Linked DNA regions of Homo sapiens: regions 2, 3, 4, 5 and 6 are each linked to region 1. Evidence: fine-mapped expression QTL. A gene starts in region 1. Each other region holds a variant in brackets. All regions are shown on one strand. Distances are between the middles of the regions.

What was found. PIP is the estimated chance that this variant, and not a neighbour inherited with it, causes the effect.
Region 2: its variant is fine-mapped to the expression of FBXW8 in whole blood (INTERVAL, PIP 0.97).
Region 3: its variant is fine-mapped to the expression of FBXW8 in whole blood (INTERVAL, PIP above 0.99).
Region 4: its variant is fine-mapped to the expression of FBXW8 in monocytes after R848 (Quach 2016, PIP 0.95).
Region 5: its variant is fine-mapped to the expression of FBXW8 in aorta (GTEx, PIP 0.98). The same link has a PIP of 0.9 or more in fibroblasts.
Region 6: its variant is fine-mapped to the expression of FBXW8 in lung (TOPMed, PIP above 0.99). The same link has a PIP of 0.9 or more in tibial artery.

What each region holds. Positions count from the first base shown.
Region 1 is chr12:116,908,611-116,912,610 of GRCh38, forward strand. It overlaps FBXW8 (F-box and WD repeat domain containing 8), which reads left to right and starts at 2,340. Exons shown (of 11, transcript NM_153348.3): 1 at 2,340-2,745. The coding sequence starts at 2,428. It also overlaps the pseudogene RPL36P15. RefSeq lists silencers at 2,168-2,387, 2,548-2,807.
Region 2 is chr12:117,117,242-117,121,345 of GRCh38, forward strand. All of the region lies in intron 2 of TESC-AS1 (TESC antisense RNA 1), which reads left to right. It overlaps LOC105370010 (a long non-coding RNA gene), which reads right to left and starts at 3,796. Exons shown (of 4, transcript XR_945398.3): 1 at 3,609-3,796. RefSeq lists an enhancer at 1,252-1,846. The variant G/A (reference allele first, on the strand shown) is at 2,401.
Region 3 is chr12:116,852,234-116,856,337 of GRCh38, forward strand. It overlaps RNFT2 (ring finger protein, transmembrane 2), which reads left to right. Exons shown (of 11, transcript NM_001382266.1): 11 at 1-1,398. HRK (harakiri, BCL2 interacting protein) reads right to left here. Exons shown (of 2, transcript NM_003806.4): 2 at 3,911-4,104. Among named protein-coding and RNA genes, the nearest start is that of HRK, 27 kb to the right of the region's middle. The variant A/T (reference allele first, on the strand shown) is at 2,220.
Region 4 is chr12:116,953,303-116,957,406 of GRCh38, forward strand. All of the region lies in intron 4 of FBXW8 (F-box and WD repeat domain containing 8), which reads left to right. Among named protein-coding and RNA genes, the nearest start is that of FBXW8, 44 kb to the left of the region's middle. The variant G/C (reference allele first, on the strand shown) is at 1,737.
Region 5 is chr12:116,977,959-116,982,062 of GRCh38, forward strand. The region is part of intron 5 of FBXW8 (F-box and WD repeat domain containing 8); the gene reads left to right. LOC100506551 (a long non-coding RNA gene) reads right to left here. Exons shown (of 4, transcript NR_103809.1): 3 at 2,292-2,461; 4 at 1-1,631. Among named protein-coding and RNA genes, the nearest start is that of FBXW8, 69 kb to the left of the region's middle. The variant T/C (reference allele first, on the strand shown) is at 1,769.
Region 6 is chr12:116,966,333-116,970,436 of GRCh38, forward strand. The region is part of intron 5 of FBXW8 (F-box and WD repeat domain containing 8); the gene reads left to right. Among named protein-coding and RNA genes, the nearest start is that of FBXW8, 57 kb to the left of the region's middle. The variant C/T (reference allele first, on the strand shown) is at 2,348.

The DNA of each region.
Region 1 (4,000 bases):
ATGGCTGCCAAGAAGAACTGAGACTTCTTCCCCTTCTGTGTATAATAAAACCTTTACGGAAAAAAAAGAGAATGCTTACTTGTATTGGATGCTTATGTTCCATCTTGCATCACTTCACTCATCTTTTACCTTAGTCACTGCTGTAGCAACTGGCTTTGTGCACGTGTAACCTGACAGTCGTTCCTGTTAGCTGCACAGTGTACCTCCTGCTTTTTGCCCCAGAGCATCTCTGCTGCCTTGGTACGGAACATCCATGATAATCCGTTTACTTATACCCAATCTAGAAGTGGGAGGTTGTTAAAGCTCCTTGGCTTAGCCTTTCTCTAGTAGGGGATGAGAGTCACTGGACAAATGCTTTCCTCTTCTGGCTCTTATCTCTTGGGAGGACAATTCTGAGCTGTGTTCTAAGGCTCCTTAGAAGGTGCTAATGGAATGAGCCTAAATTGCCACAGTAGGACCAACTCAGAGATGCTCTTTCTTTTTTTTGTTTTTTTGAGACAGAGTCTCGCACTGTCGCCCAAGCTGGAGTGTAGTGGTGTGAATATACGCCCAACCATATACTCTAATTTTCTACAGTGAAGGTTGTCCAAGCCTGGTTTCCCACAGTAAGCAAGCCTGAGCCCTGGGTTTGTAGGCAGCTAGTTTATTTACAGAAGTGATTCTAGAGAAGAGGCCTGAGAGACTAAGAAGAGTTAGACAAGGAATAAGGGACAGTTAATTGCAAGAGCATCTTTGAGCCTGGAGTGGTGGCTCACACCTGTAACCCCAGCACTTTGGGAGGCTGAGGTGGGTGGATCACTTGAGGTCAGGAGTTCAAGACTAGTCTGGCCAACATGGTGAAACCCTATCTCTACTAAAAATACAAAAACTTAGCCAGGTGTGGTGGCGGGCACCTGTAGTCCTAGCTACTCAGGAGGCTGAGGCAGGAGAATGGCGTGAACCCGGGAGGCGGAGCTTCCAGCGAGCCGAGATCGCGCCACTGCACTCCAGCCTGGGCAACAGAGCGAGACTCCGTCTCAAAAACAAAACAAACCAAACAAACAAACAAACAAAAAACCATTTATTGAGCATGTATTAATCACCAGTCTCAAAGCTAAGAGTTGCCAATCTAGAAGGGAAGGGATATATATATATACATAAAAATAAAATTACAAATTGTGTTATGTATTATGATGAGAAGTACAGGATGCTGTGAGAATGAGTAACAGGGATACCTGATGTTTCTTGAGTGGAGGTTGGAAGATTAAGTGAAATGTGAGTTGAGATATGAAAGATGTGTAGGAGTTAACCAAGTCAAGGTGGGGGGAAAAGTTCCCTGCTGAGGGAATATCAGGTGCAAAGAAAACATTTTTAAGTGGAACGCCATCGTATGTCATTTTCTTTCCCATCTTAAAGCCCTTGGATTTCCTTCTGGAAATCTCTCTCCTAAGATCTGACCTTCCCTTGGCTGGTTTCTCTTTCAGATTTTTAAAAAAAAATTTTTATTTCCACAGGTTATTGGGAACAGGTGGTATTTGGTTACATGAGTAAGTTCTTTAGTGGTGATTTGTGAGATTTTGGTGCACGCATCACCCGAGCAGTATACACTGAACCCAAGTTATAGTCTTTTATCCCTCCCCACCTTCCCACCCTCCCCTCGTCCCCCTCCCCTGTTCCAAAGTCCCATAAGTCATTCTTATGCTTTTGCATCCTCGTAGCTTAGCTCCCACTTATATGTGAGAACATACGATGTTTGGTTTTCCATTCCTGAGTTACTTCACTTAGAATAATAGTCTCCAATCCCATCCAGGTTGCTACGAATGCCATGAATTCATTCCTTTTTTATGGCTGAGTAGTATTCCACCATATGTATATATCAGTTTCTTTATCCACCTGTTGATTCTCTTTTAGATTTTAATTTAAATAACATCTTAAACAGACTTTCACTATCAATCCTTACTCCCCTTACCTTACCTTATTTTGTTTTCTTCCTAATACCTATCACTGATTTAAATGTTCATATTTCTTTGTTTAAAGTCTCCCTACTTAAACGCATGCTCCAAGACGTCAGAGTTTTTGTTTTGTTTTACAGATTTAAATGCTGAATTCTTGGTGCCTGGCATATAGTAGTTGCTGAATGAATGTTTGTTGAATGAAGGAACAATGCTTGGCGCAAAGTCAGAGCTTAGCAAAAGTGATAGGCAGCAGAGCTGACGGGCTGAGGGGCAGCTGCGTAAACCTCTGCTTTGGGCGCCACAAGCCACAAGCCGGACCACCACGTGCGTACAGGGGCAGCGCCGGGGGCGTGGCGGGGGCGTGGACGCCCACCCGGAACCCTAGAGCGGCGGCGGCAGCGGCTTCCGGCCGCGGCGGACACTTCCCTGGGCGGGACTGTCTCGTGGCACCCGGTGGAACCGAGGAGAACGTGGAGCGCCGGGAGCGGCGAATATGGACGACTACAGCCTGGATGAGTTCCGTCGGCGCTGGCAGGAGGAGCTGGCGCAGGCCCAGGCGCCGAAGAAGCGGCGACGGCCCGAGGCTGCCGAGAGGCGGGCTCGGCGGCCGGAGGTGGGCTCCGGGCGCGGCGAACAGGCCTCGGGGGACCCGGCGCTGGCCCAGCGTCTCCTGGAGGGCGCGGGGAGGCCCCCGGCGGCGCGGGCGACTCGGGCCGAGGGGCAGGACGTAGCGAGCCGCTCACGTTCTCCTCTGGCCCGCGAGGGCGCCGGGGGCGGGGAGCAGCTGGTGGACCAGCTCATCCGCGACCTGGTGAGTGGCCGTCGCCTCCCCCCCGCCCATGCCTGCGCCGGCCCCCGCCCCCAGGACAAACCCCTGCAGTGATTTGGAGAGTAACTGTGTGCCACTAGTTGCCCGAGAAAATGAGTAGACGCACAAACACCAATGTTTGTGCTTGCATAGGGGTCTTTCTGGAAGCAGCACTTCCCAACCAGGGCGATTTTGTTCCCCCAGATGTGGCAGTGTCTGCAGACATTTTTGGGTGCCTCATCGGGGTGTGTATGTGTGCATGTTACTGGGCATCTAGTGGGTAGAGGCCAGAGATGCTCCTGAACATCCTACAGTGTACAGGACACCACGCACAAAAAAATTATCCAGGACAAAATATCAGTAAGTGTGGGGTTGAGAAATCCTGCTCTTGAAGGCTACCTAAACTTTGAACAAAGGTTGCCTTTGAAAAGGAGGACCCAGATGATGGATAGGAAGTAATTTTACCTTTGTATACTGTTTGCACTATTTAATTTTTGTAACCGTGCACGTATTCAAAAAAATTATCTCAGAAAAAAAGGAAGAAGAGGAGGAAGAATCTCCTGGGCACTTTCATTAGGATAGAGTTTCTTATCTTTTTGTGGGGCGTGGATACCTTGGAGAATCTGGAGGAAGCTGGGGACCCTGTGTCCGTTAAAAATAATCCCCTTCAGAAAGTTGGGAAAATCAAGAACACCTGAAATGCATCCGTGGCTCCCAGGTTAAGAGGACAAGGCTCCAGGTTCTAATGGTTTGATTTAAATTAGGCCCAAAGGAAGTCCCTACAGCTTTACAATTGGGAACCCACTTTTTTTTTTCCTGTTTTTTTTTTTTTTTCTTTCTTTCTTTCTTTTCTGAGACAGGGTCTTGCTCTGTTGCCCAGGCTAGAGTGTACTGTTGCTCTCCCGGCCCACTGCAGCCTCAAACTGCCTGGCTCAAGCCATCCTCTTCCCTCAGCATCCCGCGTAGCTGGGACTACACGCATGCGCCACCACACTCAGCTAATTTTTTAAATTTTTTGGTAGAGACAAGGTCTCCCTGTATTGCCCAGTCTGGTCTCAAACTCCTGGGCCCAAGTGATCCTCCCAATTGAGAATCATTCTTTTTTTTTTTTTTTTTTTTTGAGACGGAGTCTCGCTCGCTCTGTCGCCCAGGCTGGAGTTGCAGTGGCGCGATCTCGGCTCACTGCAAGTTCCGCCTCCTAGGTTCACGCCATTCTCCTGCCTCAGCCTCCCCAGTAGCTGGGACTAACAGGCGCCCA
Region 2 (4,104 bases), 210 kb after region 1:
AGTCTCAAGAACACACCTCCGCCATGCTACTGTGATCACTAGGTCTCTAGCACTTATTCATATTATGCTGAAGGTTTGTATCCTTTGACCAATATCTCTCCTCTCCCCCTGCCCCAGCCCCTGGTAACCAACATTCTACTGTCTGCTTCTATGAGTTGGACTTGCTTAGATTCCACACATAAGTGAGGTAATGCAGTGTTTGTGTTTCTATGTCTGCCTGATTTCAGTTAGAAAAATATCCTCCAGGTTCAGCCACAGTTTTGAAAATGGCAGGATCTCCCTCTTTTTTTTTTTTTTTTTTTTTTTTTGGAGACAGAGTCTCGCTCTGCCCCCCAGGCTGCAGTGGCACAATCTCGGCTCACTGCCACCTCCGCCTCCCAGGTTCAAGCAATTCTCCTGCCTCAGCCTTCCGAGTAGCTGGGACTACAGGCATGCGCCACTATGCCCAGCTAATTTTTGTATTTTTAGTAGAGATGGGGTTTTGCCATGTTGGCCAGGCTGGTCTCAAACTCCTGACCACAGGTGATCCACCTGCCTCAGCCTCCCAAAGTGCTGGGATTACAGGCATGACCACTGTACCTGGCCAAGGATCTCCCTCTTTTTGAAGGCTGAATAATATTCCTATGTGTGCGTTTCACATTTTCTTTATCCATTCATCTGTCGATGGACACTTAGGTTGTTTATCTTGGCTACTATGAATGATGTTGCAATCAACATGGAAGTGTAGCTATCCATTCAAGAAACTGATTTCATTTCCTTTGGGTAGATGCCCAGAAGTGGAATTGCTGGATCCTATGATAGTTCTATTTTTAATTTTTTGAGGAACCTCCACACTGTTTTCCACAATGGCTATACAAATTTGAAACAGCGTTTTAAGTTACCCATTTAAACTGTTACCCTTTCCTTCTTCCCTCACCCCCCACCCCACATCTCTCTAATATCTCCACTAAAAGCTCACAGCTCCTGGTAGGGACCACGATTTAACCTTGGCTTGACTTAATCTTTGCCCTCTATCCCCATAATTTATTTCCAGTCCAGAAAAAAGCCAGTGGTCACCTGTTGGGATTTTGGGCAAGTTCTGGGTTGAAATTCTCCTTCTTGTAGATTACAAGAGTTCTAGGCCAGGCGCGGTGGCTCACGCCTGTAATTCCAGCACTTTGGGAGGCCGAGGCACATGGATCACCTGAGGTCAGGAGTTTGAGACTAGCCTGGCCAACATGGTGAAACCCAGTCTCTGCTAAAAATACAATTAGCTGGATGTGGTGGCACATGCCTGTAATCCCAGCTACTCAGTAGGCTGAGGCAGGGGAATCACTTGAACCCAGGAGGAGGAGGTTGCAATGAGCCGAGATCGCACCACTGCACTCCAGCCTGGGCGTCAAGAGTGAAACTTCATCTAAAAAAAAAAAACAAAGAGTTCTAGAGTTCTAAAACTGTGATGTGCATAACATTCCCCTGGAGCCTCTGGTGTCGCAGGAAGGGTTGGGGACTCTGGGGTCAGTACCTGTTAGAAACCCCCAGGTGATGGTGAGGTTGGGGTGAGCAGGATGGCAAAATACTCTGCCCCCCACTGCTGGGAAAGGGATCTAAATCCAAGGGCCGCTCAGGGACTTCGCAGCCCCTCCCCTGTGGGCCTCTGCTCTTTGTCCCCATCCTATTGTTAAGGCCAGATGGCCACCCTTCAGCAAATAGTGGGAGGTGGAAGTGGCAGATTAGAGACCTCTAGACTCCAGCTAAAGCCTGCTCGTTGGGGGTCACCCATCCCTGTCCCACGCCTGCCTCAGCGTCCAGGCTGAGTGCCGCCCTCTCTGGAGGAACCAGGGTGGGCCACCTCAGTGAACCGGGGTGAACCGGCAGCTGTGGCTGAGCCAGGAGAAAACTCACACTCCCTCCAAGCTGCTGCTGCTGCTGGCTGGAAGCAAGGCTGGGATGCTCTGATGTCACCAGAAAGCGCCTCCTGTCAGGCCTCAGCCACTATTCTTAGTCTCAAGAACACACCTCCGCCTGTTAGAAGTCTCTCGACTTCAACAAGCTCTTTATAAATAACTTAGAAACTGGTAGTGTGCAGGGCTGCTGGCTAAGAACTTCTTTCTTTTATGCAAGATGTTCCAAGGGCCTCAGTGGTAGGCACACCTCGCTCCCGGGGAGCCCTGTAAATGTTATGATCTCAGGAACGGACGCTTCCATCCATGGGTGCTGCTGGCCCAGCTGTGCGCTAAGTGCCAAGCAGTTTCACAGGCAGTTCCAGAGCAGCTGGACGACCTGGATTCAAATCCTGGCTCTGCCACTTCCTGTGTGAGCTTGGGAAAGTCGCTTTGCTTCTCCTTGCCTCTTTGACTGCATCTACAAAACCAGGGCAATGAGAGTTGCGACAGCCCTGGGCTGTAGCAAAGAAGAAAA[G/A]AACTGAAACACACCAAGTGCTTAGAACAGCACAAGCCAGCAGCCGCCTGGGTGTCTGCCACTATCTTACTGTTGCTACTGATGTCCTTAGGAAGCACTTGTCCAGGAGAGACCTTTATCTCCATTTTATCCACAGGAAACAGAGACTCCTGCCCTCAGGTTAAATGACTGGCCTCATTCACCCGCCCTGTTGGTAGCCAAAGCAGGACTTGAACCCTAGTCTATTCCACTGGGAATCTCACGGTAAATTATAAAACTCTGCTGCCCCCTAGAGCATGAGGAGGGATCAGGCACAATCAAGACTAGCGGGGCTTCTCACCTGTGGGAACCTGTGACCAGCAGGAAAATCACTCCCTGGACACTGCTGGGGGAGCCACCCTCCTCCACCATCCTCCTCCAACATCTTGAGACCTTGGGCAGCTCAGTGCCCCCTCACTGAGCCTCAGTTTCTTCATCAATAAAATGGGTTTATAGTAACAGCATCTACCCTGTAGAGTAGTATGACAATTAAAGGACATGAGCTTTTAGGCCAGCCGCAGTGGCTCACACCTGTAATCCCAGCACTTTGGGAGGCAGACACAAGTGGATCACTTGAGGCCAGGAGTTCGAGACCAGCCTAGGCAACATAGAGACCCTGTCTCTACTAAAAATACAAAATGTAGCTGGGTGTGGTACCCTGTGCTTGTAATCCCAGCTATTCGGGAGGCTGGGGCATGAGAATAGCTGAACCCGAGAGGCAGGGGCTGCAGTGAGCTGAGATCGCACCACTGCACTCCAGCCTGGGCGACACAGCGAGACTCTGTCTCAAAAAAAAAAAAAAAAAAAAAAAAGGACGTGAGCTTTTATAAAGGCACCCTCTCCCATTTTTTTCTCTGGCCACATTGGGGTGAGTCCCATCAGCTTCCTGGATAAGGCAGGCCCCCTCCAAGACCAGCTGACCTCTCCAAGATGTGCCAGGGCTGCGGTCGCTCACGTCTCCCTCCAGGTCACCTTGGGGACTTCTCAAAACTTCATCTTTGGCACAGATTCCCTGGTGACTTGAGCTGGTTGTTTATGTGCATAAATGTCCCCTTACCCCACTGATGGACGTTGAGGTTCTTCTGATGTCCTCCCCGAGCAGGTGTTCCAGCAGGGTAACTGCTGAACCTGATGTTTCTTCTCCTCCCCCTCACCACCCACCCACCCCTAGTCATTGTGGAGCCACTCACTTGGCATGGAGAAGCACCATCTGGTGGCTTTTTCCAGGCGTTTTCCATATTTGCTATGGGACACCACGCTTGGTTGAATTCACAGGAGGGCCAATGCCTCTGGGGGCCTGGAGTGACGTGCTGGTTCCAGGAGGGAGTCAGGAATAGGAGATCTCCATTTCTCGTGTTAACACTTCCTTGCCAGGCCCCTACCAGACAATGTAAGAGGAGGAGCTCCAATGTGATGCAATCGACAGAGGGGTGCATCCTGCTCAGAAGGCAGGGGAGGCTGGGCGCGGTGGCTCACGCCTATAATCCCGGCACTTTGGGAGACCAAGGCAGGTGGATCACTTGAGGTCAGGAGTTCGAGACCAGCCTGGCTAACATGGTGAAACCCCGTCTCTACTAAAAATATAAAAACTTGCCAGGCATGGTGGTGGGCACTTGTAATCCCAGCTACTCGAAAGGCTGAGACAGGAGAATGGCTTGAACCCGGGAGGCGGAGTTTGCAGTGAGC
Region 3 (4,104 bases), 56 kb before region 1:
AGTGGGCAGATTACCATGCAAGCCCCAGGAGAAATGGAGGAGCTTTGTAGCCACCTCGCTGTCAGCCAGTATTAACATGTCCCCTTCCCCCTGCCCCGCCGTAGATTCAGGACATTTGCCCCTGTGTGCCACCAAACCAGGACTTTCCCCTTGGCTTGGCATCCCTGGCTCTCTCCTGGTACCCAGCAAGACGTCTGTTCCAGGGCAGTGTAGCATCTTTCAAGCTCCGTTACTATGGCGATGGCCATGATGTTACAATCCCACTTGCCTGAATAATCAAGTGGGAAGGGGAAGCAGAGGGAAATGGGGCCATGTGAATGCAGCTGCTCTGTTCTCCCTACCCTGAGGAAAAACCAAAGGGAAGCAACAGGAACTTCTGCAACTGGTTTTTATCGGAAAGATCATCCTGCCTGCAGATGCTGTTGAAGGGGCACAAGAAATTGGAGCTGGAGAAGATTGATGAAAGTGCAGGTGTGTAAGGAAATAGAACAGTCTGCTGGGAGTCAGACCTGGAATTCTGATTCCAAACTCTTTATTACTTTGGGAAGTCACTCAGCCTCCCTGTAGCCATCTCCAGGGTGACGGAACCCAGTGTATTACCTGCTGGAACCAAGGAAACTAACAATGTAGGTTACTAGTGAATACCCCAATGGTTTCTCCAATTATGCCCATGCCACCAAAACAATAAAACAAAATTCTCTAACACTGCAAAGAGTGAGCCATGCCTGTTAACACTGTAAAGAATGTAACATGTGGGGGACACACAGGGGCAGATGGGATGGTTTAGTTTAGGATTTTATTAGTGCATGCCCTACCCTCTGGGGGAACGTCCCATCTGAGGTTTTCTTCTCGGTGGGGGGATTTAACTTCTGTCCTAGGGAAAACAGTGTCTGATGAGGAGTGTTTCCAACACAGGCTACATGAATTCCCCTATACCAGTGCGAAAGCAGCCAGGAGTCCCCGTTGGAAAAGAACAATGCCACTCTCTTTTATGTATCTTGGTTCTGCAACTCATTTGTTGTAAGTAGGGTTAATCGAGTATCAGGTTCACAGTATCCTGCCCTTATTATTTTATGATTCACTGACTCAAGTTCCACGAAGTCCTTAGAAATGGACCTCTTCATGTAAAATATCTTGAGAATAATAAATGTGAGGGAATAAGAAAGGCAAGCTTTGGACACAGATATGATAGGTGCATCAGCTTCGGAAGAGAAGAATGATGTGCAGAGTGTTAGGAAGACATCCGGGCTGCTGAGACTCGGGATTAGAAGAAAGAGAGGTAAATAAAGTGGGTCCTGGAATCTTTTAGGACTTCTGCTGTAGGACAAACAGCTGCCTTTGGTGTTTTAATGTCTCCCAAAGTACCCTTCAGCCAATAAATACCATCTGTTGGTGCAACTTGTGTTTGTGGTCTTGATTTTCCTTTCACCTCTTGAAGCCAAGTGCAACTGTCTTAGATCAAAGGAGAAGAAGCCCTTCGCGGAGTGGGTGGTTGTCTTATGTTGGTTTCTCCTAAAGCAGATCCTGTTCAGGTGCATGTGATTTATTACAGCAGTGCTCCCACGAGAAACCAGTAAGGGAATCATGAGTGAAATAGAACAGGGAAGGGAAAGAAGCCAAGCTCTGGCGAACTCTCAGTCTTAGCCGGATCCCCCAGGGAGCTCAGGAGCATAAGTTTCATCTCAGAGTTTGTCCCATCCCACAAAATACACACCAATTGATACTTGGCACTGGGCTGATGGGGGGACTTCCTGCACTTCAGACTCTCCCCTAAGAGGCTCCAAGGGGAAGCCTCTGAAGGCCCCAGATACCAGCAAAGCACACGAAAGTGCAGGATAGGAATCTGGCAAAAGGGATCAGAAAGGGCCTCTGTGGGGCACTTACAGTGCCCACTACAGGGGCTAACTGGAGGTTTTGCGGACCAAAAATGTATAGGCTGATTCAAGAAGGGTTTTCCAGGGCGCCAGATTATGATAGATATTTAAATGTAGATTAATAGCACGAGGTGACAGTACATGCCTCTCAGGGCAACATTATGACACCAGCCATGAAAACATCGCATCAGGCCAAACTTTTGGGTTGCCATCAAGGCTGGGCGTGGTGGCTCACTCCTGTAATCACAGCATTTTGGAAGGCCAAAGTGGGAGGATCGCTTGAGCCCAGGAATTTGAGGACAGCCTGGGCAACATAGCGAGACCCCCATCTCTACAAAAAAAATT[A/T]AAAAATTAGCCAGGCATGGTGATATGCGCCTGTGGTCCCAGCTACTCCGAGGTGGGAGGATCGCTTGAGCCCAGGAGGTGGAGGCTGCAGTGAGCCGTGATCACACCACTGCACTCCAGCCTGGGCAACAGAGCTAGACCCTGTCTCAAAAAAGAAAAAAAAAAAGAAAACCAATTCAAATATGGCTTAAGTAAAATAAAGACTTTATTTGGTTTACGTAACTGTATGGGCTTCAGGCACAGCTGGATTCAGAGACTCCCAGTGTTGATATAGAATTGTGTCTCTCGGTCAGGCGCAGTGGCTCACGCCTGTAATCCCAGCACTTTGGGAGGCTGAAGCAGGCAGATCACTTGAGGTCAGGAGTTGGAGACCAGCCTGATCCCCTCTCTACTAAACACACACACACACACACACACACACACACACACACACACACACACACACACACACAACAACTAGCCAGGCGTGGTGGCCCACACCTGTAATCCCAGCTACTCAGGAGGCTGAAGCACAGGAATCGCTTAAACCTGGAGGCAGAGGTTGCAGTGAGCTGAGATAGCACCACTGCATTCCAGCCTGGGTGACAGAGTGAGACCCTATCTCTGTAAAAAAAAAAAAAAAAAGAGAGAGAGAGAGAGAGAATTGTGTCTTGGCCATCCCTCAATTCTGTTTTCCTCTGAGACAGTTTGATTTTCAGGCAGCTGGACCCATGTGGTGGTAAGATGGCCCGCAGCAGTTCTGCGTTTATGTTCTAGCAGCTTAACAACCCCTGCATCCCGAAAGCTCCACCAAAAGTCCTAAGACTGACTCTCATTTGTTTGTCCCAAACCAATTACTTTAGCTGGTGAGATGTGGAGCACTGGCCAGGCCTGGGCCAGCTGTTGAGCTCTTGAGGTAGTGAGAGGATGGAGTCGGCCCCTCTAAGTCATGTAGACTGAAAGTGGGGCAGGGATGGGTGTTCAAAGGAAAAGAGAAGGTCTGGTATCTAAAAAAACAACCTGGGCCAGGCGCGGTGGCTCACGCCTGTAATCCCAACACTTTGGGAGGCCGAGGCAGGTGGATCACCCGAGGTCAGGAGTTCGAGACCAGTCTGGCCAACATGGTGAAACCCCGTCTTTACTAAAAATACAAAAGTTAGCCAGACGTGGTGACACACGCTTGTAATCCCAGCTACTCAGGAGGCTGAGGCAGGAGAACAGCTTGAACCCAGGAAGCAGAGGTTGCAGTGAACCAATATCGTGCCACTGCACTCCAACCTGGGCAACAAGGGAGAAACTCTGTCTCCAAAAAAAAAGGTATGTGTACTCAAACTCCCATTCTTAGGATGAGACTAGAACCCGAGTTGTCCGCAGTTGGAGACATTAATCTGCAGCCTCATTGGCTTGTCCACAGGATACCATGCATAAATTATGGTTGTGTGCACTCACCTCGAACTGTTGGGCAAGTTTCCCAAACCTGTGGCCCAACCCAAGGGCATTCTTTAGGCCAGTCCTTCCCTTCAGGGTTTGGGCGGGGCGGTGGATCTTAGGAATTAGAGGAGAGAAGGAAGTGTCTGGCCTTCTGCCCAAGGGAACATTGGGGCAGGCAGGAGCCAGGGGCAGGGATCCTGTCCCTGTTATGCAGCTGGGTACTCCCAGAGTCTATGAGGGCCAGCCTTCCAAAAGGAAATGAAAACACAAATGTCTTTGGCTAGAAGTGCACAATCAGTTTTTTAATAAAGTCATTACAAATATGTACAAAGCGTCTCCAAGGTATGAAATTCCTCTTACAAAAGAGCACAACGACGTCAGAACCAACAACGTCAGAACCCAGAACGGAACGTCCCCAAGCTTATTGCCTCTCTGGCTAGGCCAGAGGCCTCACTAAGGTTCTCCAGATACCCTC
Region 4 (4,104 bases), 45 kb after region 1:
GGCTCAGGGCCAGGCTGGGTGTGCGTGAGTGGAGCCGCTCCGCTGTGTTTCTGCAGCATCCACAGGCAGGGCTGGCTGGTGAGGCTGCCGTTTCCAGCCCTCATTTGCTGCTCTGAAGCTTTGGCTATTATAGCATCATTTTGGTTTTTCTTTTGTGGCATGTGTCTATTTAAAAACAAAAGCAGCCGGCTGGGCGCGGTGGCTCACGCCTGTAATCCCAGCACTTTGGGAGGCCGAGGCGGGCGGATCACAAGGTCAGGAGATCGAGACCATCCTGGCTAACACGGTGAAACCCTGTCTCCACTAAAAAATACAAAAAAATTATCCGGGCATGGTGGCGAGTGCCTGTAGTCCCAGCTACTCAGGAGGCTGAGGCAGGAGAATGGCGTGAACCCAGGAGGTGGAGCTTGCAGTGAGCCAAGATCGCGCCACTGCACTCCAGCCTGGGCGACAGAGCAAGACTCCATCTCAAAAAAAAAAGACAAAAAAACAAAACAAAACAAACAAACAAAAAACAAGAAAAACAAAACCAGCCGGGCATGGTGGCTCACGCCTGTAATCCCAGCACTTTGGGAGGCCTAGGCGGGCAGATCATGAGGTCAGGAGTTCAAGACCAGCCTGGCCAACATGGTGAAACCCCATCTCTACTAAAAATACAAAAATTAGCTGGGCGTGGTGGCGGGCACCTGTAATCCTAGCTACTTGGGAGGCTGAGGCAGGAGAATTATTTGAACCTGGGAGGCAGAGGTTGCAGTGAGCTGAGATCGCACCATTGCATTCCAGCCTGGGCGACAGGGCGACTCTGTCTCAAAAAAAAAAAAAAAAAAAAAAAGAAAAAGCAGTGGTAAAAACCATGTTGTTTTGCAACCGTGTTAGAAAGTAGAGAAGAGAAAGCCACTCAAATTCTAGCATGGAACACAACCTTTATTAAGGTCTCCCATGTGTCTGGTTTGGTTTTCAGTCTGTTTTTCTATGCATGTTTTTTCATAGTGTGACTGTAGCCTTTGTTAGATTTGTGGCCTTTTCCCTCACCAAACTGATGAATTTTTTTCATGTTGCATATTTTTCATTACTTTCTTTGACTTGTTGCAAAAACACTTTGGATAATTATACCCCAATTTCCCTATTTATTCCCCTAATAGTGGACATTAAGGTCATTTCCTGTGTTTTGTTATATGTATGTTATGAATATTTTATGTATAGATGTCTGCAAATTTTTCTCCTTTTTAGCATTACAAATCTTTATTTTAAAATGATTAGACACATGCTACTGTAGAAACTTGAAATTCTATATAAGTATATAAAATAAAGAGTTAAAGTTCTCTCATTATCGTCTCCTAGTCTTGCAATCCTGATTGTTTTCCTAGGCTAGAGTCCTGTAAGCAGAATTACTGGATTTAGGGGAATGAATTTTTATTTTCCAGATTAATAAATTATTTAAAAGTGCTTTTGTAGCCCTCAGCTTCTTTGCAATCTAACCTTTTGACTTGAAGTCTCCAAACCATCCCTGCCATCTTCCTGTTAGTGCTGTACATAGTGAGAGCCCGTGCCTCCTGCCCCTCTTCCTTCCTCCCCGTCTAACCTCCCTCCAGCTGGCTCCATCCCAGCCCCACTGTGCTGCACTCTCAGAGGTCACCCGTGATCTTTTGGTCAACAAACCAATAGCCTTTTCTTGGCTCGTCCTCTCCAGCCTCTTGGCAACATTTGGTGCTGTTGACTTTCCCCTCTTGAAATGG[G/C]GGGGGGGGGCCCTGTATTAAGCATCTGTATGCCCTCAGAGTCTAACATCTTTCCCAGGACCCAGGAAACTTTGAGCCAAGTGTGTAAGAAAGGAAAACTCCCCTTCGGCGATTCCACACTCTCTGGACTTCCATTACCTCCGTGAGCGCCTTCTCTGGCCCTCGTTCTTGTCTTTCTCTGCTGTCACTTGACCACTTAGCAAGGATATGCAGCAGCGCAGAAAAGACCTGCACCAGTTGTTTTCTTTGTTGGAGAGATAAGTGGACGTGCCTTCAACTGCGACTGAGACATTCAGACACAACTTTTACTTTGCTTTTTCAGCGAAAATTTCTCATTTCTGTAACTTGAGAAAAATTTATGTTCATAAGTCACCAGTCTCTACAGAATCAGTCACCTGTCTTTCTCTCAAAGTTCAGCGCCTGTCTGCATTTGTATCTGTGATCTGCTGGACCTCCTGAAATGCTAGCGAGGTTTAGTGTGTGTTTTCCTTGTGTTTTAGCACAGAGTTTGTCTAGAAAGTTAGTTGATAGTAAGTGCTCAGGAAACATGTCTTTTGTTTGTTTCTTTGATTTATTGTGGTAACAGCTCTTAGAATTTTAGAATGTTTTGAAAATTGTATGTTTATCCTTGAGGAGAAAGAGTAGAAGAAAGGGGCATATGGAAACATCCCTGTTCTGTTTTGTGATGCTTAGACTGTTCTCGTCTTCCTTCTCCCCAGTTGCCCTCTGGAAGTTAAGTGTTGCAATCAGATGACATCATGAGTTCAAAAAAGACAGTATAAAACCTGAGGTGCAGGGCTAGGTGTCGTTTGCCATAAGTAGTGAAGGAGAGCCACCTAGTGAAGAGTGCATCTCAGGTAGAACCAGTAGCTCCTTGGAGGCCTTGTGCCAGCTCTGCTAACCATTAAGCCATTAGCTCACCAGAAGCTTTTATCAGATGCCCAGGAGTATGATGGTGTTTTGCAATAAACTCTCTCCTCATTGTTACTTGAGATTCATAAGGCTAAAGCATTCTAGTTGGCATAAGAAAACACACTTTTCTATTCATATGAGAGGACATTTTCTCTCTTTTGGTTTTAAAAAAAACACCAAGCAACCTGTTTGTGTTGAGGTTTTTTTCATTACTCCTAAATATTTTCTCCCCTGGTTTCCGCCTTTTTAGCATACCGTTCCTGCCTTTGCTGGAAGGAGCAGGGCTGTGTATCCATGCTTCTCTTCTGCCTAGTGTGGTTGGAAGGAGAACTGTATCATTTGCTGCAAACCATTAGCGCTCTTCTTACCCTAAAAACACTCAGTTGTCCCATTTTTGCTTCATTCCTTTTGAGGCAAGTGTGCCCAAGTAGATACAAAACAAAACTGCCCATACCTCTCTAGCAACCAAGTGATCTCTGGCTGCTGCTTCAGCTGCCAGACATGGCCTGATTCAAATATGTTTTTATTTTTCTGAGCCCCATTCATACACCCTGGCGTCAGAGTGAGAGGGTTTGCAGTTCTTTGTAGACAGAGAGCAAAATTTGGAGCTTCAAATTTATATATGTAAAAATTGGTGTCTGAATCTTTGGTTGGTTCAGTTTGCCTGTTGGCCCTTCAGTGGAATTTTATCATTGTTTTACAATTAAGAAGTATTGGAAAATATAATTTTAAACAGGGCAGGCACAGTGGCTCATGCCTGTACTCCCAGCACTTTGGGAGGCCAAGGTGGGTGGATCACTTAGGGTCAGGAGTTTGAGACCAGCCTGGCTAACATGGTGAAACCCTGTCTCTACTAAAAATAGAAAAATTAGCTGGGCATGGTGACACGTGCCTGTAATCCCAACTACTCGGGAGGCTGAGGCAGAAGAATCGCTAGAACCCAGGAGGTGGAGGTTGCAGTGAGCCGAGGTCATGCCACTGCTCCCCAGCCTGGGCAACAGAGTGAGACTCCATCTCCAAAAAATAAACAAAGTCATCTAAGGTAACTTGAAATACCTTGCTTTTAGCTATGTTGTCCTCTGCTTTTTCCAGTAATTACAAATGTACCTTGTTATTAGCCGGGCACAGTGGCATGCCTGTAATCCTAGCACTTTGGGAAGTCAAGGCAGGTGGGTCACTTGAGGTCAGGAGTTTGAGACCAGCCTGGCCAACATGGCAAAACCCCTTCTCTACCAAAAATACAAAAATTAGCCAGGCATGGTGGTGCACACCTGTAATCTCAGCTACTCGGGTGGCTGAGGCACAAGGATCACTTGAACCCGGGAGGTAGAGGTTGCAGTGAGCCAGGATCATGCCACTGCACTCCAGCTTGGTGACAGCGAGACTGTCTCAAAAAAAATTTTTTTTTAAAAAAGGACCTTTTTATCGACTGTATACCATGCCAAAATATGAATAG
Region 5 (4,104 bases), 69 kb after region 1:
TTCCTCTTCTCTTGACTCAGTTTCTATTTTGGTGATCTCGCTGCTTTGTTTATGCCCTAACCAGTCGCCTCCTCCATAAGCCTATTCAGATTCTTTTACTTGTCAATCTAAAATGCAGATTCCAGAATGTTTTCTGTTTATTTTCTGCCTTAGGCAACAGAGCTGTAGCGCTGTGGTCAGCGGGAAAGCAGGATGGCATGCCACAGTAGCTGCAGTAACAAGAAACTTCAGCCTTTTTCCTTTTTCGTGACCCTCCGTGGTTTAGCTGTTCTTTATGACCCTTGTCTACACTGATACTAATCTCCCACCGGCACCTCTTCCATGAAGAGCAAAAACTTTTGTCCTGTCCAACTTTATGCTAGTTTTATGTCTCTGGCCTGCATTTCAGAGTGGTGATGTGTGGACTTAATGAACAAAGAGGTACGTGTTAAGTCAGTGCTATGGGTATATTTAAAATTTTTGTCAAAATGCCTTTTCCTTTGTTGCAGAATTTCTTTTGACTCCTGATTAATTTCTGATAGGCAAGTGTTTATTTACATGGTAGAAATTGAGATTGCCAGCTGTCTTTATTATAAATAGTCAACTTCATTCAGTATCTCTGAACGCAGTTAATTGATCCTGTCTATTTAACGATCATGAAGTTGACACCAAGCTTCAGGTGTTTATTGTGGAAGCTCAAGAGGATGGGAGCTCGCGGCTGAAATAATTTCTAATCAAGAAACCACTAAAGACCACAAGACCAGCTCTGTAGTTGAAGAAGGGACTAGTCTATGACCTTTCGAAACTGTTAACCTGTTTTAAATTTTGTGGTGCATGGAAAAGATCAAAGGGGAGGGAAGAGTATACCAATTGTGTTTTTTTTCCAAAACCAGTTCAGCAGTTATTTACCTTTCAGGCAATTAACATAATTACCATTATGCTAAAAAGTAATTTTGGAAAGTTCTGCCCTGAGCTCTTATGACTCCACCGGGACAGTTTTAGTTGGGACTTATCTTTTTGATGGAAGCTTAATTGCAATTTTGGCTTTGTGCACACAAACAGAAGCAGCTAATTGTTTAGGCAAATAGCAGATTAATTTAAATATGCATCCCTAATAAAACAAAAATGGTATCCATTATGGTCCTTGTTCCCATGACGAAGAATATAAATATTCTGTGCAAGTACCATTAGACAGAGGTCTTAAGGATTGTCGACATTATTTCACAGTGGTAGCACTTTCCAGATATCGAGTAATCTTTACAAAAGCTAACATAAATCAGTTTAAACTCATTTAGATCCCATTTCCACTATGTGCAGTTTCATTACCACACTCTGGCTGGCCTCCTTAGGGAGGTGGGAGGGGCCTGCTGCAAACTGGCATGGGTGCCCATCCACAGCTGCTGAGCAGGCTTTATGTCTCCTCGAAAGACTGGCCATCGTTACTCATGTCATCGTTAATGGCTGTTACTGGTCTAGGCTGAGCTCAGAGTTCCTTCAGCCTGGCTGCTGCTTGTCAAGGTGGAGGGTCCTGAGCCCAGGGAGCAGGTGGGAGTGCCAGGCCCTGCCCCTTCTCCTTTATTGGGCCAGTGGTCCTCACTTGTCTTCTGGATGTTTCAAGAGACCCAGTTTCTTCTTTTGTCTGCATCCTTTTCCTGTTTGTTATGAGTGAAACAGTATTGTTGCAATCCCAGCACTACTCAGAATTAATCATCTTTTATCCAGCTATTGAGGTTTGGTCAGGAAGGAAGAAAAACACCTGCTCTTTCTGTTTCTCTAGTGTGGGGCAAAA[T/C]GGGGGCTATAAACTCTGGCCTTCAGGATGATGCCTGGTGCAGGGAATGGCAAAAAAAAAAAAAAAAAAACACTTGCTTCTTATGCCACTGCCAAGAAACCAAGTAGAACCTCCCTTTGTGTTTGCTGAGACTTTTTCTCTTGTTTTACCTTGGCCTACTGTGCAGGAGAGAAGTCGTAGAGATCTTTGGGCAGGGGGTTGTCTCCTTGCCCTGAGGTCCCTCCCCAGGCCCTCTCCAGGTGGGCATGTTCATAGTATTTGAGTTAGTCTTTTGGCCTCAGCTAATTGGATGAGGGATGGGGCCCCAGTTCTTGGGGGAAGCTGATTCATGGACTGGGATGGGCTGGTTGGGACTCAAACTTTGTTGCATTCTTGGAGTAGAAGACCTCCTGGAATGGGGACAGCCACCTTTCTCCATGTACCCAGGGATGAGAGAAAGCTGGTTTCCGAAAAGAAGAATGAAATAGAATTGCAGAGAGAAGCAGAGATAAGATCTGTGGTGCACACAAGTTACATACACTACCTTGGTTCTGCATGTCTTCCTGGTTCCTGGTTCTGATCCCTTATCACCTCCAGCTGTACTTCCTGCCCTTGGGCTCCATGAAGTAGCCTCATTCCTTTCCAGTCAGTTTCCTTTTTATGTTTAAGCCAGTTTCAGTGGGTGTCTGTTTCTTACAACCAAATGTTCCATTGCTGAAACATATGACAAGCATTAAGCAAACCTTTATTGATGTACAGCCACATCCAGCACTGTGAATTCCTTACCATAGGGCATAGAGAGGGAAAAGGACACAGTCTTGCCATTTCACAAGTTCACAGTGTCAGGAGCCAAATCCATTTCATTGCTAGGTCCGCAGTATGATAACACTTGACCTTTCAAATGAATTTATATCAGATTTAAAAAAAAATACCTATTTGAGAAGTGAATTTCCTTGACCCTGACAGGCATTAACTACTTCTTCCTTAGTAGTTATGCAATAAATGCAGACTTGGTTCAAGTTAAAACATCTAGAAAAGTTTGCTGCTCCTTTTCTGGGGTCTTAAAATAGTGTGACAGCATGACCAAAAGTTAAGCTTATTCATTGTTCCATTGTGCTTTGTGTATATCTCTCTGTGATCATTGTGTTTTATATTTTAGTTATTAAATATTTGTTTCTCTCCAGTGTGTGTTTTATGAAAACAGGTATCCTTTCAATTCTTATATGTCACTAAAATGTTGGCTCGATCAGTCAGGGACTTTTTTTGTTTTATTTTGTCTTATTCACTGTGATATCCCCAGTCCCTAGAATAGTGCCTTGGTACAAAACAGGGAGCTCTGTAACTACCTGTTGAATGTATTATTGCATTGATTCCTTTTTGGCTAAATGTAGCTGATGATAATCAGCCACACTATTATAGAGCATTCTTGTAATTCAGTTATTCACTATTCAAGTCCTTGCAGTTTTGAGATTATAAAAGTAGCCATGATATAACTGTAGTAACTGATAAATTGACCATTTATAAAATTAGCTTTCACTCAAACACCCCTCCCTGTTAGCTTCTGTATCTATTCCTGCCCACTCTGCCCATATGCTTTTGGGGCAGATATCCAACAATACAGTTCAAAGGGAAATTGCAAACCTTGCAGAAGCTGCAGGACTTTGTGATGTTGAAAGTGACAGTGAAAGAACTAGAAGTGGTAATTACATGGATAAATAGAAATGGCTTTTTTATTATTTAAATATCTTTAAAAGATAATTGCCTGCTTATGCAAAAGTAATAACAATGTATTTAAGGTTTACAAGATGTACAAATAAAAAGTTTGTAACATATGTAGAAATAAAAAGTATGACAGTAATAGCACAAAGGCTGGAAGGGAAGAAATGGAAGTATGCTGCTGTGAAGTTCTTTTTTTTTTTTTTAATTGAGACAGAGTCTCACTCCGTCACCCAGGCTGGAGTGCAGTGGCACTATCTTGGCTCACTGCAACCTCCGCCTCCCAGGTTCAAGCAATTCTCATGCGTCAGCCTCCTGAGTATCTGGGATTACAGGTGCCCACCACAATGACTGGCTAATTTTTGTATTTTTACTAGAGACGGGGTTTCACTTTGTTGGCCAGACTGGTCTCAAACTCCTGACCTCAAGTGATACGCCCACCGCAGCCTCCCAAAGTGCTGGGATTACAGGCATGAGCCACCACACCCAGCCTAAAGTTCTTATATAACATGTGAAATGATACACTATTACTTGCAGGTAGACTGTGATAAAGACTTATGTTAAAATCCAAAAGCAACCTCTAAAATAACAAAGAGTTTTGGCTAACAAGCCAACAAAGGAATTAAAATGGAATAACCACA
Region 6 (4,104 bases), 58 kb after region 1:
AGTTTTAGGATCATCTAATAGCCTTTCCCTACCATTCACACACACGAACATGCACACACATATTCTTCTACAGATGGGGAAACAGAGGTGCAAAGAAGCCAGGTAGGTTGAAGTCAGCAGTGAATCCAGAACTGTGATTGTGTCTCCAGGGCCGTGCTGCGGTGGTCGTGCTGTTTGTGGAATCCTGAACATAAAGACTCTTGTAGAAATGTGCGCCCAATTGATTTGCAGCCCATGTCTCACATCTCGTGAGCTTGAAAATACAGCTTGAGGTGATGTGCAGGGGTGCTGCTGCTGGTTTTATATTGTGAGAATTGTCTTCATTGCCCTCATCCCCTGTTGTTGCACAGAAATGTTGGGAAACAATGTAGGCATGATAAAGAATCTACTTTTTTTTTTTGAGACAGGGTTTTGCTGTGCCACCCAGGCTGGAGTGCAGTGGCACCATCTCGGCTCACTGCAACCTCTGCCTCCCGGGTTCAAGTGATTCTCCTTCCTGCCTCAGCCTCCCGAGTAGCTGGGATTATGAGTGCCCACCACAACAACCAACTAATTTTTGTATTTTTACTAGAGACGGGGTTTCACCATGTTGGCCAGGCTAAGAATCTGCTTTCTTTGGTAAAATGCTTCGCAAGTGATTGCCAAAATGTATTTTAAATTCTTTTTTTTTTTAAAGTCATAGTTAGAATTCAAACAGAGCAAAAATGTATATAAAATGACAAAGAAAAAGTATGCAAAAAGAAGTCGAGGTATTCCTCCCTGTCCCACTTCCAGGCCCTCTCGCATTTTACTCGTGGGGGGTCCTGCTCTGTATACTTCTCTGCACCTTTTTTTTTTTTTTTAATAACCTAATGGCACATCTTGGTGATCTTCCGTGTTCACACTTACAGGGTAAACCTTATTCTTTTTAATGCCTGTGTAGTACTGCATTATGTGGCTGTACCATCATTTATTTATTAGGGTCCTCATTGATACACATTTGAGTTGTTCATTTTTGTTATTGAAAACAGTGCTGCAAGCAATATACTTGAACAAATGCCAGGATGGACTTGTCCAAGGGTGGCCCTGGGGTGAGGTGCTAGTGATTGCTAGGTTGGAGGCTATGGCTGCAGGCTTTGGCTGCTTTAGGCTTTGATAACTATTGCCAAATTGCCCTCCAAAAAGGTTTCACCAGTTTATAGTGTCACCAAAAGTATGTGAGAGTGACTGACAGGTAAAAATGGCATTTTATTGTCTTTGTTTGCCTTTCTTTAATTACATGTGGACATCTTTTCTTTGTGTGTTGTTAGCTGTTTCTATTTCTTTCTCTGCAAATTGTTTGTTCCTGTCTTTCTTCATTTTTCTTTTGGGTTGTCATCTTTTCTGGTTGAAAAGAAAGCTTGGGAAATAATCCTTGCCATATGTGTTTCCGATATTTTTTCCGTAAGTCACTTATTCTTTTTTGTTTGTTTTGAGATAGAGTCTGGCTTTGTCATCCAGACTGGAGTGCAGTGGTGCGATCTCGACTCACTACAACCTCCGTCTCCTGGGGTCAGGCGATTCTCCTGCCTCAGCCTCCTGAGTAGCTGGGATTACAGGCGCCTGCCACCACGCCCAGCTAATTTTTTATATTTTTAGTAGAGCTGGGCTTTCACCATGTTGGTCAGGCTGGTCTCGAACTCCTGACCTCAAGTGATCTGCCTGTCTTGGCCCCCACAAAGTGCTGGGATTACAGGCTTGAGCCACCGCGCCTGGCTTGTCATTTATTCTTTAATGGACTTGTTTTCTAGAAGGTACTTGGTATGTGTGAACAATGTTAATTTTTTAATCTAAAAGTGAGTGGGGTTATTTTGTAATTTAATGTTTTTGATTACTACATTTTTAGGGTTCAAAGATCAAAATAATATAAAGTTATATATTGAGAAATCTTGCTGCCACCCACTTTTGTCTGCTCCATTCTGAAGTAACCATATTTTTTACTTTCTTGTATATCCTTGTATTTTAGTATTACAAGTACAAGAAAATATGAGTGTGTATATTCTTATTGCCCCCTTTTTAAAAAACAAAAGATAGCATACTATTTACTTTACATGATTCCACACCTTGGCTTTTTTCTCTAAATAGCATATCTTAAAAGGGAGTGCATGTCTGTGTAGAGAGAGTACCCCGTTTGCACACCTGAATGGTAATTCCATTGTGTATAAGCACTTTGGTTTATTGAAGGACAGTTGTGTTGTGTTTGCCGTTACAGTGTTGTAGTGAAAAACCTTGTAAAGATGACATTTCACACAAGTGCAAGGAGGATTGTTTTCTGGGTTACAGGGTAAATGCAAGTGGGGTTTTACTATTTTATGCTCTTACCAGCAAG[C/T]CATGAGAGTGTGCCCGCTTCCTCACAGTTTTGCCAACAAAGTATGTTTCCAGCTTTTGGGTATTCATCAGTTTGAGAAGAAATGGTCACCAAGTGTAGTTTTAATTTACATTTCTCTTAATGTGAGAAAGGTTAAATTAAAAAAAAAATGTGTACCTGCTACTTGTAGTTCTTTCTTTTTCTTCTGTTACTGTTATGGCTTATTTTTTATATTTTTATCTTGACAAGTTCGTCTTGGATTAGCATGCAGTATGGTTCCAAGTACATCTTTTTTCCAGCATCTCTTCTCGGAGAGCCCATTTCTACCTAACTGGTTTGAGGTGCTGCCTTTATAAGCTTTTAGCTATGAAATTCACTTTGTATCTGGGTCTGTTTCTGAACTTTGTGCTCTGTTTCAGTTGGTCTGTCTGGCAGCTTAAATTTACATCAAGCTTGTCAGTCTTGTCCTTTGGGGTTTCACGTCATGGTTGGGAAGATGATTACTCAACGCCTGGGTAAAATCTATAAGTGCTTCCAAGGCTGCAGTGTTTCCATTGAAATCTTTGATTCGTTTCAAGTTCATTTTGGTATTAAGGGCTCTTCCTTTTTTAGAGCCCTTGTGTTTCCCTGCTCCCCTCTCATGCTGAGCTTGTTTCATTGGTCTGATTCGGGTTGTTACTGTTTCTGTGATAAACAACAACTTCTATTCTTTCCCCAGACGTCAGGTGGCGTTACCTTTGGTCCCCCTTCAGTTTAACAGATCGACACTATGATATTTACACTAACATTTTCGTGAATAGCTACTTTTGGGCAAAGACAGATTCAAATAAACCCACATTTTTATATTGCTTCTTTCCAGGAGCAGCTAACTGGCACTTCTGAGGCAGAAACATGACAAAAAAAGGAATTTTACCTTGTGGGTTCTGCTGTCTAAAATTTGTGACACGGAAAAGAAGAATAAGACAATAAAATGAGTTAATGAACTTCAGTTCTCTGGTTGTGCCAAAGTGAGGCTCTGTAGCCATTGAAACGCCCTCGCTGGTCTACACGCACATTCTCGGTGGAGGGAATCGTATCCAGAGGGGGAGATGGAACCTGCTTTGGGGAAAGGGAGTCATCCCTGCATCCCTTTTAGCCTCTTTGCTCCGTAGGAACACTGTACATGCACCTGGGGTGTTGAGATTTGGCAAGGTGATCCACAGTTGTGATTTTTTGAATTCCAACCCTCTGGCCTCATATTTCTTCTGCCTTGTTTCCGATTGTCAGCACTGGCCATCCTCCAGTTTGATTTTACCACTAATTGTGTTGCACGTTACCATACCGAAATGAATCAAATCAAAATGCTTTTCCTGGAGCATTAGATAAAGCAGGCGAAGGTTCTGAGTAATGAGCAGATGCTGCTAATGCAGGGACGGCGGAGACCTTGCCAGGACTCCATCTGCTCCGTGCTTGCCTGCCTTTGGCCTCGTGCCACAGCATTAGGGAATGGCAGTGTGCTTCGAAACCCGCTCCCTGGTCACCGAGTTTGTCTTGAAATCTCGCTCTTTGGTGAGAAATGAGATTACACACTTCTTAGGTGCAAAGAAGTTTTTATTTGTCCCCCTCAGTAGAGAGAGGAGAGACGCGATCTGGTGCATATTAGCATGAGGAAGCCTGGACGGGACAGCCAGCAGTCCTCTTTATATGGTGCCATCAAGCACGGCAAAGTGGCTTATCCACCTCCGCAACACTCCCAGTGCAACTGTCTGAACGCACACATGCTCCATTGTCCGGGACTG